Regions from separate parts of the Homo sapiens genome. Here region 2 is linked to region 1. Evidence: fine-mapped expression QTL. Tissue or cell type: monocytes after LPS. Region 1 holds a variant in brackets; the other region holds the start of a gene. All regions are shown on one strand. Distances are from middle to middle.

Evidence for each region. PIP is the estimated chance that this variant, and not a neighbour inherited with it, causes the effect.
Region 2: LRAT starts here. The variant in region 1 is fine-mapped to the expression of LRAT in monocytes after LPS (Fairfax 2014, PIP 0.95).

Annotation. Positions count from the first base shown.
Region 1 is chr4:155,015,728-155,023,787 of GRCh38, reverse strand. No RefSeq gene overlaps it. Among named protein-coding and RNA genes, the nearest start is that of NPY2R-AS1, 190 kb to the left of the region's middle. The variant C/T (reference allele first, on the strand shown) is at 3,785.
Region 2 is chr4:154,740,238-154,748,297 of GRCh38, reverse strand. It overlaps LRAT (lecithin retinol acyltransferase), which reads right to left and starts at 4,298. Exons shown (of 3, transcript NM_004744.5): 1 at 4,076-4,298; 2 at 3,432-3,972. The coding sequence starts at 3,971. RefSeq lists enhancers at 4,947-5,459, 5,460-5,971, 5,972-6,485.

The DNA of each region.
Region 1 (8,060 bases):
TTCTGGATATTAGCCGTTTGTCAGATGAGTAGATTGCAAAAATTTTCTCCCATTCTGTAGGTTGCCTGTTCACTCTGATGGTAGTTTCTTTTGCTGTGCAGAAGCTCTTTAGTTTAATTAGATCCCATTTGTCAATTTTGACTTTTATTGCCATTGCTTTTGGTGTTTTAGACATGAAGTCCTTGCCCATGCCTATGTCCTGAATGGTATTGCCTAGGTTTTCTTCTAGGGTTTTTATGGTTTCAGGTCTAACATTTAAGTCTTTAATCCATCTTGAATTAATTCTGTATAAGGTGTAAGGAAGGGATCCACTTTCAGCTTTCTCCATATGGCTAGCCAGTTTTCCCAGCACCATTTGTTAAATAGGGAATCCTTTCCCCATTGCTTGTTTTTGTCAGGTTTGTCAAAGATCAGATAGTTGTAGATGTGTGCTATTATTTCTGAGGGCTCTGTTCTGTTCCATTGGTCGATATCTCTGTTTTGGTACCAGTACCATGCTGTTTTGGTTACTGTAGCCCTGTAGTATAGTTTGAAGTCAGGTAGTGTGATGCTTCCAGCTTTGTTCTTTTGGCTTAGGATTGACTTGGCAATGTGGGCTCTTTTTTGGTTCCATATGAACTTTAAAGTAGTTTTTCCCAATTCTGTGAAGAAAGTCATTGGTAGCTTGATGGGGATGGCATTGAATCTGTAAATTACCTTGGGCAGTATGGCCATTTTCATGACATTGGTTCTTCCTATCCATGAGGATGGAATGTTCTTCCATTTGTTTATATCCTCTTTTATTTCGTTGAGCAGTGGTTTGTAGTTCTCCTTGAATTGGTCCTTCACTTCCCTTGTAAGTTGGATTCCTAGGTATTTTATTCTCTTTGAAGTAATTGTGAATGGGAGTTCACTCATGATTCGGCTCTCTGTTTGTCTGTTATTGGTGTATAAGAATGCTTGTGATTTTTGCACATTGATTTTGTATCCTGAGACTTTGCTGAAGTTGCCTATCAGCTTAAGGAGATTTGGGGCTGAGCTGAGACAATGGGGTTTTCTAGATATACAATCATGTAATCTGCAAACAGGGACAATTTGACTTCTTCTTTTCCTAAGAATACCTTTTATTTCTTTCTCCTGCCTGATTGCCCTGGCCAGAACTTCCAACACTATGTTGAATAGGAGTGGTGAGAGAGGGCATCCCTGTCTTGTGCCAGTTTTCAAAGGAAATGCTTCCAGTTTTTGCCCATTTAGTATGATATTGGCTGTGGGTTTGTCATAAATAGCTCTTATTATCTTGAGATACGTCCCATCAATACCTAATTTATTGAGAGTTTTTAGCATGAAGGGCTGTTGAATTTTGTCAAAGGCCTTTTCTGCATCTATTGAGATAATCATGTGGTTTTTGTTGTTGGTTCTGTTTATATGCTGGATTACATTTATTGATTTGCATATATTGACCTAGCCTTGCATCCCAGGGATGAAGCCCACTTGATCATGGTGGATAAGCTTTTTGATGTGCTGCTGGATTCAGTTTGCCAGTATTTTATTGAGGATTTTTGCATCGATGTTCATCAGGGATATTGGTCTAAAATTCCGTTTTTTGGTTGTGTCTCTGCCAGCCTTTGGTAGCAGGATGATGCTGGCCTCATAAAATGAGTTAGGGAGGATTCCCTCTTTTTCTATTGATTGGAATAGTTTCAGAAGGAATGGTACCAGTTCCTCCTTGTACCTCTGGTAGAATTCGGCTGTGAATCCGTCTGGTCCTGGACTTTTTTTGGTTGGTAAGCTATTAATTATTGCCTCAATTTCAGAGCCTGTTATTGGTCTATTCAGAGATTCAACTTCTTCCTGGTTTAGTCTTGGGAGGGTGTATGTGTCAAGGAATTTACCCATTTCTTCTAGATTTTCTAGGTTATTTGCATAGAGGTGTTTATAGTATTCTCTGATGGTAGTTTGTATTTCTGTGGGATCAGTGGTGATATCCCCTTTAACATTTTTTATTGCATCTATTTGATTCTTCTCTCTTTTCTTCTTTATTAGTCTTGCTAGCGGTCTATCAATTTTGTTGATCTTTTCAAAAAACCAGCCAAGCACAAGGGGTCAGGGAATTCCCTTTCCTAGCCAAGCAAAGCTGTGACAGACAGCACCTGGAAAATTGGGTCACTCCCACCCTAATACTGCACTTTTCCAGTGATCTTAGCAAATGGCACACCAGGAGATTATATCCCACTCCTGGCTCAAAGGGTCCCACATCCACAGAGCCTCACTCATTGCTAGCACACAGTCTGAGATGGAACTGCAAGGGGCCAGTGAGGCTCGGGGAGGGGTGCCCACCATTGCTAAGGCTTGAGTAGGTAAACAAAGCGGCCAGGAAGCTCGAACTGGGTGGAGCCCACCACAGCTCAAGGAGGCCTACCTGCCTTAGTAGAGTCCACCTCTGGGGGCAGGGCATAGCCGAACAAAAGGCAGCAGAAACCTCTGCAGACTTAAAAGTACCTGTCTGACAGCTTTGGAGAGAGTAGTGGTTCTCCCAGCATGGAGTTTAAGATCTGAGAATGGACAGACTGCCTCCTCAAGTGGGTCCCTGACCCCCAAGTAGCCTATCTGGGAGGCACCCCCAAGTAGGAGCCGACTGACAACCCACGGCCGGGTACCCCACTGAAACGAAGCTTCCAGAGGAGTGATCAGGCAGCAACATTTGCTGTTCAGCAATATTCAATGTTCTGCAGCCTCCACTGCTGATAGCCAGGCAAACAGTGTCTGGAGTGGACCTCCAGCAAACTCCAACAGACCTGCAGCTGAGGGTCCTGACTGTTAGAAGGAAAACTAACAAACAGGAAGGACATCCACACCAAAATCCCATGTGTACGTCACCATCATCAAAGAGCAAAGGTAGATAAAACCACAGAGATGGGGAGAAAACAGAGCAGAAAAACTGAAAATTCTAAAAATCAGAGCACCTCTCCTCCTCCAAAGGAATGCAGCTCCTCACCAGCAACGGAACAAAGCTGGATGGAGAATGACTTTCACGAGTTGAGAGAAGAAGGCTTCAGATGATCAAACTTCTCCGAGCTAAAGGAGGAAGTTTGAACCCATTGCAAAGGAGTTAAAAACCTTGAAAAAGATTAGACGAATGACTAACTGGAATAACCAATGTAGAGAAGTCCTTAAATGACATGGTGGAGCTGAAAACCATGGCATGAGAACTACATGATGAATGCACAAGCCTCAGTAGCCGATTCGATCAACTGGAAGAAAGGGTTATCAGTGATGGAAGATCAAATGAATGAAATGAAGTGAGAAGAGAAGTTTAGAGAAAAAAGAATAAAAAGAAACGAACAAAGCCTCCAAGAAATATAGGAGTATGTGAAAAGACCAAATCTATGTCTGACTGGTGTACCTCAAAGTGACGGGGAGAATGGAACCAAGTTGGAGAACACTCTGCAGGATATTATACAAGGGAACTTCCCCAACCTAGCAAGGCAGGCCAACATTCAAATTCAGGAAATACAGAGAACACCACAAAGATACTCGTCGAGAAGAGTAACTCCAAGACACATAATTGTCAGATTCACCAAAGTTGAAATGAAGGAAAATATGTTAAGGGCAGCCAGAGAGAAAGGTCGGGTTACCCACAAAGGGAAGCCCATCAGACTAACGGCTGATCTCTCAGCAGAAACTCTACAAGCCAGAAGAGAGTGGGGGCCAATATTCAACATTCTTAAAGAAAAGAATTTTCAACCCAGAATTTCTTATCCAGCCAAATTAAGCTTCATAAATGAAGGAGAAATAAAATCCTTTA[C/T]AGACAAGCAAATGCTGAGAGATTTTGTCACCACCAGGCCTGCCCTACAAGAGCTCCTGAAGGAAGCACTAAACATGGAAAGGAACAACCAGTACTAGCCACTGCAAAAACATGCCAAATTGTAAAGACCATCGAGACTAGAAAGAAACTGCATCAACTAACGAGCAAAATAACCAGCTAACATCATAATGACAGGATCAAATTCACACATAACAATATTAACCTTAAATGTAAATGGGCTAAATGCTCCAATTAAAAGACACAGACTGGCAAATTGGATAAAGAGTCAAGACCCATCAGTGTGCTGTATTCAGAAAACCCATCTCATGTGCAGAGACACACATAGGCTCAAAATAAAGGGATGGAGGAAGATCTACCAAGCAAATGGAAAACAAAAAAAAGGCAGGGGTTGCAATCCTAGTCTCTGATAAAACAGACTTTAAACCAACGAAGATCAAAAGAGACAAAGAAGGCCATTACATAATGGTAAAGGGCTCAATTCAACAAGAAGAGCTAACTATCCTAAATAGATATGCACCCAATACAGAAGCACCCAGATTCATAAAGCAAGTCCTTAGAGACCTAGAAAGAGACTTAGACTCCCACACAATAATAATGGGAGACTTTAATATCCCACCGTCAACATTAGACAGATCAACAAGACAGAAAGTTAACAAGGATATCCAGGAATTGAACTCAGCTCTGCACCAAGCAGACCTAATAGACATCTACAGAACTCTCCACCCCAAATCAACAGAATATACATTCTTCTCAGCACCACACTGCACTTATTCCAAAATCGACCACATCGTTGGAAGTAAAGCTCTCCTCAGCAAATGTAAAAGAACAGAAATTATAACAAACTGTCTCTCAGACCACAGTGCAATCAAACTAGAACTCAGGAGTAAGAAACTCACTCAAAACCACTCAACTGCATGGAAACTGAACAACCTCCTCCTGGATGACTACTGGGTACATAAGGAAATGAAGGCAGAAATAAAGATGTTCTTTGAAACCAATGAGAACAAAGACACAACATACCATAATCTCTGGGACACATTCAAAGCAGTGTGTAGAGGGAAATTTATAGCACTAAATGCCCACAAGAGAAAGCAGGAAAGATCTAAAATTGACACCCTAACATCACAATTAAAAGAACTAGAGAAGCAAGAGCAAACACATTCAAAAGCTAGCAGAAGGCAAGAAATAACTAAGATCAGAGCAGAACTGAAGGAGATACAGATATAAAAAACCCTTCACTATATGCACTTTAAAGTAGAAATCCCATTATCTTTTTCTATGATTTAATATTAACATATGAATTAATGTCATCCTATTTAGCCCAGTATCCCTTATCTTGGAGAAAATGCAAAGGCCTCCCTAAGATTTCTGTTAATTTTCAGTGCTTTCCAACCTGCCGGTCATCTCTAGTGCTGAGTTCCTTCTGCAGAGTTCTAAACCTCATTCACACATTATTCCCAGCAATTATCTTGTTCTACTTGCTCCACACTAATCTAGGCTTCAAAGTCAGCTCATTTCCTTCGTATTTCTGAACACCATCCTCCCAAAGATAGCCTGCACTGGACATACAGGTGTGTGCCAAACTTCACTATTTGGAAAGATAGAGAATTATATCTCAAAATATCCTTCAAATTGAATATTATTATCTGTTAGGAAAAATGACAAAAGATTTGGAAACGGGCAAAACCAATTACGGAGTGTCCTCTCAGTGCAATTCTAGGCATCTAGGAGCAGTCTCCAGGAATTGTCTGAATCCTTAGAGGTGTGGATCTCGGATTGTCTTTCTATTGACTAGGCTATTTTAGGAGTCTGTGAGAGGGAGTAGTAATTAAGATGTAGAAACAGAGTAATGCAAATAATTCTTGTTCAAAGAAACATTTAAATGTTGACTAGTAGAAATATAATTAATTTCATCATGCAGAAGAGATGCCAAACATTATAATATTTTGCATATATATTATTGTCCTATAGGATATTTACCAGTTTTGCATCTTAGCAAAATGATTTCTGCATTCCTCATTGCGTGTGTGTGTGTGTGTGTGTGTGTGTGTGTGTGTATGTGTGTTCCTCAAATTTTGCTTTGAACTGGTTTTTACGTCTTACTGGTTTCATGAAGAAGTTAAATACAATCTTTCATATGTGCTCATTTTATATTTGTATAAGAAACATGATTTTACTTATAACACATCCCTATTCTTAGTAGTCACCATCCACACTGCTAGACATTTCTCACTCTTCAACTTTCTCCAAAGGTTCCAGCCTTTTGCTATGTTCCTTGGCTTCCTTCACTTTCCTTTTTGCTCTGATGGACACCATTTCCAAATTCCCACATTCCTTCCTCTTCTTAGGGAAAAAAGCTTGGTTCCTTTACTGTTTCATAATCTCCTTGTGAATCATGCCCTTGGAACTTTATCTTCTCCCCATACATTGACCTGAACAGAGAAGTTTGATTCTTAAGATGAATTCTACTGCCAGCCTGTTGAAACTGTATCTTTAATCTTCCTTAGGGTGTGTGCATGAGTTTGAGTGTGTGTCTGTGTATGTAAGAGAGGGCAGAGAGACTAATTTTAATTGAGGTATAGAACCTTCAAAATGAAAAGAAGTCTTCAGAAAGAAGCTAGTTTGATTCTAGATGTATTAAGTATTTTTGTGCCTGGCCTTGAAGGTAGAGATGAACAAGAGACGGCTGGAAATTTTGACCTAGAATTATCACTCTGCAATGTTAAATTGGTTCAATCATGTCATATATGAGAGGTTCTAGCTAATTTTATTAGTATAAAAACAGTGATTTATGTTCTCTTTTTTAAATAATTTTGCTATCACTTCCCCAAGGGATAGAGTATGAAAACATAAATTCTAAAATTCATTGCTCTATCATTATGAAATGTCTGAAATTAAAAGATATTCTATTTGAGATGATGGATATGCTAACTACCCTGGTCTGATCACTTTATGTATTGAAACATCAGTGTGTACTCCATAAATATGTACCATTGTTATACATCAATTAAAGAACAATATTATAAAAAGCGTATCCTATAATAGGTGTGGCAGTGTGAGTGACATTACCCTACATTGTTTGCAAAGGAGTCAGCATCCTCCTAACTTTTGGGGTTTCTCAAGGCAATGTATTACTCCAGCACATCAGTTCACCGAACTGATGTTTCAATCTACCAGATCACCAAAAGTAACCTAGATACTTCAAATTTTCTTCTTCTGTTCGTAGAGGGCAAATATTTTCCCCATCTTCTCTCCACATCCCTGCTTAGACTCCTAAAGGAGGAAGCTTCTGACCAAACTTCCGCCTCCAGGAGAAGTACTTCCCTGGGGCTTCCTCTTGTCTCTGCATCCTGTTTTTCACTGAGAACAAAGCAGCTGAGTGATATTAAGCAAGATAACTGGTTTAGGAAAATAGACAACTACAGATGAAATATTAATTGAATTATGACTTTTTCTGACTCATTTCTTTACAAATGATAACAATTCTTGGTTCTCAGTTTTGGCATTTCCAGCTGCAATATGCATCTTAAAAAGAAAAAGAAATGATTGTCTCTTTCTGCCCTCCCTCTGCTCATGCCCTCACTATGATGGGCTTTTAAATGAGTGATGAGGGCCACAGGAGCTCGGCTTCCTGGGTGTCAACAACCCTGATGGCTCACATGGTGCCGAGATGCCTAAGTTAGCAAAAGGATGAACAGTCCAGCTGTAATCCCTCACATAGTATGTGGAAGGCTCTTGCTTGTATTATTACTGGGCTATGAGATAATTAGCCGATTTCTAAAGCATATCCTGTGCATTTTGTCCATTCAAAAAAAAATGTGTATTTTCCTCTCCTCTCCCTCTATCCTTTCAAGTGTCTAATAGTTTAGGAGAGTAAAAGTAACTTGACTTTCTGCCCCTCTCCCTGGGCCAGCCTGCCTCCTCCATCCAGTGCAGGGTCCCTGGAGTACTGCATCCCCATCTTCCTGCTGCATCTCTGCAACTCAGCAGCACTTATTAGCTACAGCACTTATTAGCTACAAAATAATTTCTTCTGGGGTACAGTTAGGAAGATTTTTTTTCAAACAACTGACAGCAACTGTGTTCTGCCTACCTCCAAACTTCCTGCCAAGTAGCAGACTCTATTTTAGATATTCCAATCTGATTCCATAACTTTTTACTTTTTTTAAGTATTAACTATTGCATTTTCGTCACTAAGACTTAGTCCCGACCATTTTTAAACTTCGGTTTCAAATCTGAATCAAGCTGACTCTAC
Region 2 (8,060 bases), 280 kb after region 1:
CCAGCTCTTATTGGCTATGTCACCTCAAGTAGTCAAATGGGAACACTCAAATTGTTCTGAGGATTAACTGAGATGTTTGATGCACAAGTCCTCTGTATTCTTCTACGTGCTGTATAAACATAAGGTATTACAGTGATTATTATTAGTACTCTATTTGTTGACAGTTATCTCTACCATATTGCCGTTGATGCCAGAATGCAGTGATTGTCAGTCATTTCTATATGGGTTTTGCTATTCATACTAATTTTAAGCTCTGTTTCTAGACATGGCATTTTATGTTCTTTTAGGGTTTTCTACAGTGGCTTACATGGTACTGGGCAGCTAGGTTTCCAAATTATTAAGTGATAGAATGAACAAGTTCAATATGTTTTAATACACCACTTTGACAGTATGGTTATCTCTATCCATACTTTTACACAATTACCTAAACAAGTGTGAAACTTATCTAGATGTTGGCCTATTTTTCTATCAGACATACTATTTGTCCTTTTTTAATAAACTAGCAAGGCATTGAGAAGTATACTATTTTAAGATGGTAAAGATCAAATTGAAGTTTTCAGGACAAGGAGAAAAGGAGGTTGATGGAAGACATATTTTTGTAAATGACTAAGTTGTAAATACAGTTATCCTTATTTTTTTCCTTGGTAATTTATAATTAAGTCAATCAGAATCATTTTCGACTGTATTTCCCACAAAAGCAGATTTTTCTCAAAAAGCAACTCATGTCTAATACCCTGTTCCTGTTCACTTGGTCAGCAGACCAGCAGGCATCTTTAGTGGTGCTCAACAGTAGGAAATTTCTAGAAGGGGTCAATAAGTCTGTAGGAACACTCTTGTGAGCACTCAATCCACACAAATTAAAAGGGGCATTTGCAATCATTTTTGGCAATGAAAGAGCAGTATTAACAAAGTAAAAAAAAATCATAGTAGAAAAAGCATAAGGAATAGTAATAGTTATTAACCAAAGGAATTTTTAGTTTACAAAATACTGATTGTCAACAGTATTATAAAAATCCCATTATTTTATGACTTCTAAACTTGTAAAATAGAGTGTTACCACAAAGGAGTAAATGTTCTTTTCCAGTTCATTCATTTGCAAACTAATTGCAGTGTTTTCCTTAGGGGTAGTGTGTTCTTGAGAGTTTTTATTAACTCAAATTTAAGTAAGAGGCAACTTTGTAACTCTCATGTTAATATTAGTTGCATATATGGAGAACTCAGCAATCAGACCCAGAATCAAATAATTTCTTATGTTTCTAAAAAGTAGAAACCAGTCCTTCCTTCAGTATTAATGACCTACTTCTCTCAGTGCATGTTCAAAAACAGTTTGTAGAATTAGGAAATTTGGGATGAAAACTTTTTTTTTTCCCCCGGGAAATCTACTCTGTGGCCAAATTGTTTGTTAGACCATTCAAAGTGAAGACAAAACTCAGTTTCACAAGAGGTGCTATGCAGCAACAGCAATTAAAACACTTCTCTACTTCTGTAGACCCTAACAAAGTTTCCAAAGATGAAAAACTACTCCAACTAGTTATTTATGCAGATTAAATATTTTACTACCTTACAAAAGCACTAGTTACTGTTTTTCTGTAGAAATATATAATGCAGCGCTATATGTGTTCCATGAAAGGGTAACTCCTAATTACCTGATAGAAATACTGTTTTTCCTTAGAGAAATGATTTGCTTGGTTCCTAAGTAAATCTGACATGTTTCCTTTTGTACACTTTGGGAGCCCGTGTTTGTAAATGTGGTGGAGTTCATTTCTAAACAGGCCTGGACTAGAGCTGTGATTCTTGAATCGCTGCACAGTGCTCTAACTGTATTTTTATTTTACTTGGAAAAGAATTCCTAGATTGAGTCTTTTGTGGCTCTATAAAATCTATAAGGAGTTTCATACACCGATCTATAAAAGCAAAATACTTCCATGCTCTCCCACAGAGGATAGAGAAAGATGTTCCCAAATGGGTCAAAAAAATTAACCAAGATGTGGAGCAATTAAAAACTGGTTACATGAAAAAAACTGACTTAGCTTTTTCTGGTCCCAAAAATATCTAAACATGAAGAGTAACACTAAAGCTCATATGTTATTGCCCAGGTTTCCATTATAAAGACTGAACATTAACAATGACTTCTTTAACAAGTGCAATGAAGGCTGAGAAAGTTTCCAATTGTAAGTGAAGTTTCAGGCTTAAAATCTTAACTATTTTTAAAAGTTAAGAGGTTTTAAAAGGAAATAAAAATCCATTTTTCCCTTTGGATTTGTGGCTAATTTAATAATCATGAGTATTTTTTCAAAATACTCATAAAAATTACCTTCCAATGTTTAACATCTCTTCTTGAAAACTAATTGTATTGATCTCTGGGGAACCCATAAACAATGTAATCTACCTTCAGGGCTAATGGGTAAAGGATGCTTAACAATGAAGTCTAGATGAGGATCAAAGCCAACCCAGAAAGAATTCAGAATACCATGGAAAATACAACTCTGAAGCACCAACACAAAGAATAAGGGAACTACCAGGGGGGCCCTCTTACTGGGAATTTTGATAGCTTATAGCAAGCAATGAAAAATCCCTCTATGCAGCTTTCAAAGGGAGAAAACTGCATGGTTCCTTATTTTAAAGGCACACACTTTGTTTATAGTGTTATGGATTAAATATAAACTCTGGACCTCTTCCTTTCAAGTGAAATTCTTGGTTAAAGTTGCAAGCAGCGGTGACTGATTCCTTGTATCCCCCACCCCCAGTCACTTGCCCTTTGTCGTTTGAACTACACTGTGGGTGGACACCTGATGACTTCTGCAGCAATACTGGGCAGCTCTGGAATCTCTGGAAGCGGTCCTGCATTGCCACATCCTTTCTCTAAGCATTTCGAGATATCCTGCAAGGCACGTTGCCATTTGCTTATTTACTTAGCCTACCTTAGGAACACCAGAACTTTCCTTACTTAATCTAGAACTTTAAGAATGTTATGGAAGGCCGGGCACGGTGGCTCACGCCTGTAATCCCAGCACTTTGGGATGCTGAGGCGGGAGGATCACGAGGTCAGGAGATCGGGACCATCCTTGCTAATACGGTGAAACCCCATCTCTACTAAAAATACAAAAATAAATTAGCCGGGCGTGGTGGCGGGTGCCTGTAGTCCCAGCTACTCAGGAGGCTGAGGCAGGAGAATGGCGTGAACTCTGGAGGCGGAGTTTGCAGTGAGTGGAGATCGCGCCACTGCACTCCAGCCTGAGCAACAGAGCGAGACTCCGTCTCAAAAAAAAAAAAAAAAAAAAAAAAAAAAAAGGAAAAAGAAAAAGGATGGTATGGAAGTGGTAGGGGAGGTGTCCAGGAATTAGATCCCTACTCGCGGGGAAGAGAAAAGGTCAGGGATGGGAGGGGGCATCTCCGCGGAGCCCACTTCCCCTGGGAGTCACACATCATACCTTGTCGGACTGGGGACTGATCGGGGTGCCATATCTGCAGTAGGTCACGAAGTGCTCGCAGTTGTTCCACAGCAGGCTGTAGGGGGTAAAGCCCAGCAGCTTTTCAGCCCTCCGCGCCACCTCCTCGTTGAGCAGTGCCTTTTTCTGGAGGGACTCGTCCAGGTGATTGACCAGGATGTTAGCTCCGTAGGCGAAGTCCTCCACTGTGTCCACGCGGATGCTGGCCACTTTGACAATAACGCCCAGGATGAGACGCTTGTTGGAGACCACCTTCTGCGTGCGCCCCATGTCGTCTGTCAGGGCCAACAGGATGTCGGGCATCATGTGGGCAACACGGTTGTCTCCTAGGTAGATGCCATAGTGGGTCAGGTGGGTCCGGGGCACCTCCAGCACGTCGCCTCGGTGGAAAGAGCTGGTTTCATAAAAACTGTTCCTCCCTTTGTCTTCGCCCGCGGCGCCCGAACTAAAGAGCGTGAAGTTGGAGATGAGGAGCAGCTTCTCCAGTAGTAAAGACACCACCTCCAGCATGGGGTTCTTCATCCTGCAGGGAAGAGGGCGTCTTGGAGAGGTGCCGGTGCCACTCCGGCAGGGGCCGGGCTGGGCAAGTTAAGCTCGCCGGGCAGGGGTGCTGCGCTGCTGCTCACCTGCAGGCCAGGTGAGGTACGGCGCAAAGTACGGCCGCTGAGGAGAGAGGAAGGCAAAGGAGGACAGCGAGGCCTGGCGACCGGCTCAGCCAAGCCACAATGGGGAATGAGACGGATAAGGAACCGGTGGCTGACGGCGGGGACAGTGAGACCAGTGCTACAAGCAGCCGGAGAAGGAGCGCACCTGGGGGCCGTGCCGGGGGCAGGGCCGCGCGCGGTGCTCGGAGGTGCAGGCTTCGCTGCGACTTTTTATGGCCGTCGAGGGGGCGGAGCCGAAGGCCGTCACAGACCCGGAAAGCTCACTGATTGGGCGCCGCTGGCGCGCTGCGCTAGCGGCGGGGAGGACGCGGGATCCCGGTTTCTTTGGGAGGGGGGCGGGCCGACTCCCAGCTCCAGGGTTCTGCACAGTGATTCTTTATCGCCGCGGGATCCCGGTTGCACTACTGGCTTTTAAGTGGCCTATTTAGGGAGGTAGAGTCCCAAGGTGTGGCGGCACGAAAGGTCCTGCACCTGTCGGGACTGGGGCGAGTTCCTGGCACTTCGCGGTAGTCTTCGGTGGAAAGTCCTCTTGGGAGAGATTTCTGAGTTGGACCACCTTCCTCTAAAAGGATAGATATGAGGGACTTCGGCTTAATAAAGAGATTGCATTTACTTTGCAAAGTGCGAGCGCCTCGAATGCCTGCAGATTCTTTCCTGACCGAATCTTTCGTTTTGTTTTGTTTTGTTTTGAGACAGTGCCTTGCTCTATCACCCAGAGCAGGAGGGCGGTGGCGCGATCTGGGCTCACTGCAACCTCCGCCTCCCAGGTTCAAGCGATTCTCGTGCCTCAGCCTCCCAAGTAGCTGATATTACAGGCACCACGCCTGGCTAATTTTTGTATTTTTAGTAGACACGGGGTCTCACCATGTTGGCCAGGCTGGTGTTGGCCAGGCTGGTCTCGAACTCCTGACCTCAAGTGATCCGCCCTTCTGGACCTCCCAAACCGCTGGGATTACAGGCGTGAGCCACCGCGCCCAGCCCCTCTTTTTTCAAATGCCCTGAATCCTCCATGCTTTCAGCCGGCGCGAGGGTGTGTGTGTAGGGCGGGGGGGGGGGGGTTGGGGGGGTCGCTACCCGCGAGTCCAGTCCCTGCGCGCCGGTGATTTGAACCCGAGGCCTCTCTGCGCTCCTAGGCACCTGTGGCCGTTGAGTACGAAGCTTCCAACGGTTGGCATGAAAAACGGCGGGGTCCCAACGCCCGCCAGGAAAGCAAGATTCATGTTAAGTTTATTTCTCCGGCTTCAGGGTCACATGGACCCAGCTTCAGTTCACCCACCGAAACTTTGTCCGCCTCCCTTTATTTTTATTTTTATTTTTATTTTTATGTTTTTAAGCATAACCTCCCGGAGACGGCCAAGGAAGGCGAAGTACTTGGATGAGATGCTAAGTTCTTTGCCCGTGCGCCTGCAGCCCGACTCCAATGCCTCCTCGAGGGTGGTCCTAGGGAGCTGCCGGGTGAGGGAGCCGCTGAAGCGTTGGCCGCGCCAGGCTTGGCACGCGATGTCCCCACCGGGTGCTGAGTTCCGTGCTAATGCATTATGTAAATGCTTAAATTCTGCAGACAAAGGCCACAATGGAGAGCCTCGGGTGGCTCCACAAAGCTGCCCAGTCGGCGCTAATAGGTTTCATCAGCAGATTCTACGCACGCCTGAGGGTACTCTGCGGATGATGGATGAAGGAACATTCATTTTACCTGGAAGACGAAGGGGGCCATAGAGACCAGGCGTGAGGGAAAACGGCTCCCCATTATCCTTGGAGGCCGGGCCTTTGCTGCCACCCTCAATCTGCCGTCAGCGATCTGTCCCCGTCTCCCTGCTTGCCGGTGACTTTTGTTCATTCACAAACGATTGCGCATCACATTATAGTCCCAGCAAAGAGGAGAAAACTCCCACAAACGAGTCGAAAGAGGAAGTTGGAGAAGGGGAGAGAGCCAGTGGACGTGGAGATTTTTTTATTTTCCCAGTTTACTCCCAAAATTTAAAGAAAAGCGCCCAGGTGGCGAGTTGCTGAAACTCATCAGCTGCGCACAGGGAGCTTGCTAGCCTCTAGCAGCACAGCAGTCAGCACCCTTCGCTAAAATCGGGGGAGTCTGATAGACCTCGGTGTGTACGTTCAATGCAGACCCGACCTCACACTCTGAACTGGCTCCTCTGGGCCAGTTCTGGGAAAGCGCCAATACCGAAGCCTCTTGTGTCACGGGCCAAAGGGCCCCTGGAGATGAAAGGAAACGTGATAATTAACGGTTTCCGTCCCTGGTGGTCACTAAGGCGGCTTATAATGCTTATGACTGCCTCCACCTGGGGAACTTGAGGGAGACAAAAGCATGGAGAATTGCTTCAGGGCTCCACATAGCTATATACATATATATGAATTCTTTTATGTATATAAAAATATATACATATGTATACATTTTATATACATGAAAGAATTAGCTATAGACTCAATAGCCTTGTCCCACCGCGTTTTGGAAGACGCAAGCAGTGCCAAGCTGATTTGCGTTTCATTTTTCTTTTTCCCCCGGTGGGGTCCACTTTCTGGCCGCCTTCTTGGGAAAGGGCTTTACTTCAAAAAGAAAGGAGGTGAGAGCGATACGAGGCATGAATCTGTATAGGTGGCTCAAGATGCAGATACTCTGCTGCCATGGAAATGAATAGGGCGCGGAGTGTCCATAGTTTCTTGAAGGATATTTTTGCCTCTGATAAATTCCAATTTTTTAAGCCAGAACGTTATGCCATTAAGTGATTTATTTTGCTCAGTGGAATTGCCTGAAAGTAACCCTCTCCTGCTGCTCTGCGTGCTAGGACTTCGGCTTCCGGAAGCGACAGCCCGAAGGAGGCAGTGAAAAGTCTTCATTTGCCTTGTTTCTGAAGTCTTCCCAGAACTCTTATGCGGGAAGCGGTTAGCGATGATTAGGCAGCTTTTCAACTGCAAAAATATAGCGTGGAATGAGCTCCTCTCTCGGCTGGACTTCTCCCCGCCCCCGACCCCCCTTCGTCAAGGACCATTGCAAATTTACTTTGCAAAAGGCAGCTTCTCAATGTTCTCAAAATCTCATCTATTTCTGTGGTTGAGAGGTCAGTTTTTAATGGCTCCCTGGAGGCACACTTCATAAAAATACGTTTACACACTAATAGGCTTATGCCCCCAATAATATTTTCCTACCTGCCTCAATTTTAGCTAAACAAAGGGAAGACTATAGCTGTAGGTGGAAAGGCCCAAGAGAAATCTAACATTAGTTCTTCTAAATCAGAAGATGTCACATGGAGATAGGAGAAATTCCTCTACCCTGAGTAGCTGGAGAGACCTCTGGTTTCCCGGACCGTTAAGAAAGGTGGCTACATTCTGTGATAACGTTCTGCGTGCAAACGCCTTAAATACATGCGAATGCGTCACCAGGTCTGGCGGCGAGATTTAGAAAGAGCCTGGACTTTCCTGGTCAACACTCAGACAGACTGTGCTGAGCGGTCGACTCCCACTTTGGCCACCGCTTCCCCTACCCGCCTGCAGAAGAAGGAATGACAGCTACAGTGTCCCCGCAGGGTGGTCGGCCCCGGGGCAGCGCCCTCGCACCTGCCGCGCTCAGGCCCACGTCCATTTCCCCCAGTAACGCATACAGGCCAAGCAAGATCCGCTTGGGTCTCAGCGCAGAAGAGGCCGAAATTGAGGCTCACAGGTCCCAGCTTACTTCTGCACCTCATCTTCCCACGGCTACCTCACCAGAGGTCCCTGGAGAGTTTCTGTTCTTAAGAACTAGGACAGGGAAGAGGTGCAGAGTTCCACAGAAACCTAACGCCCTAGAAGGCTAACAGATTTCCCACCTGCAGGCTTTTTATCTCTGGATGCCCCCTGCTCCTCAGAGAAGTCTTTGGATGGAAGATATGATCACAGTATTAGTAATAATAATAACTAATATTTACGGTGTGCTTCCTGTGTATTAGGCACTGAA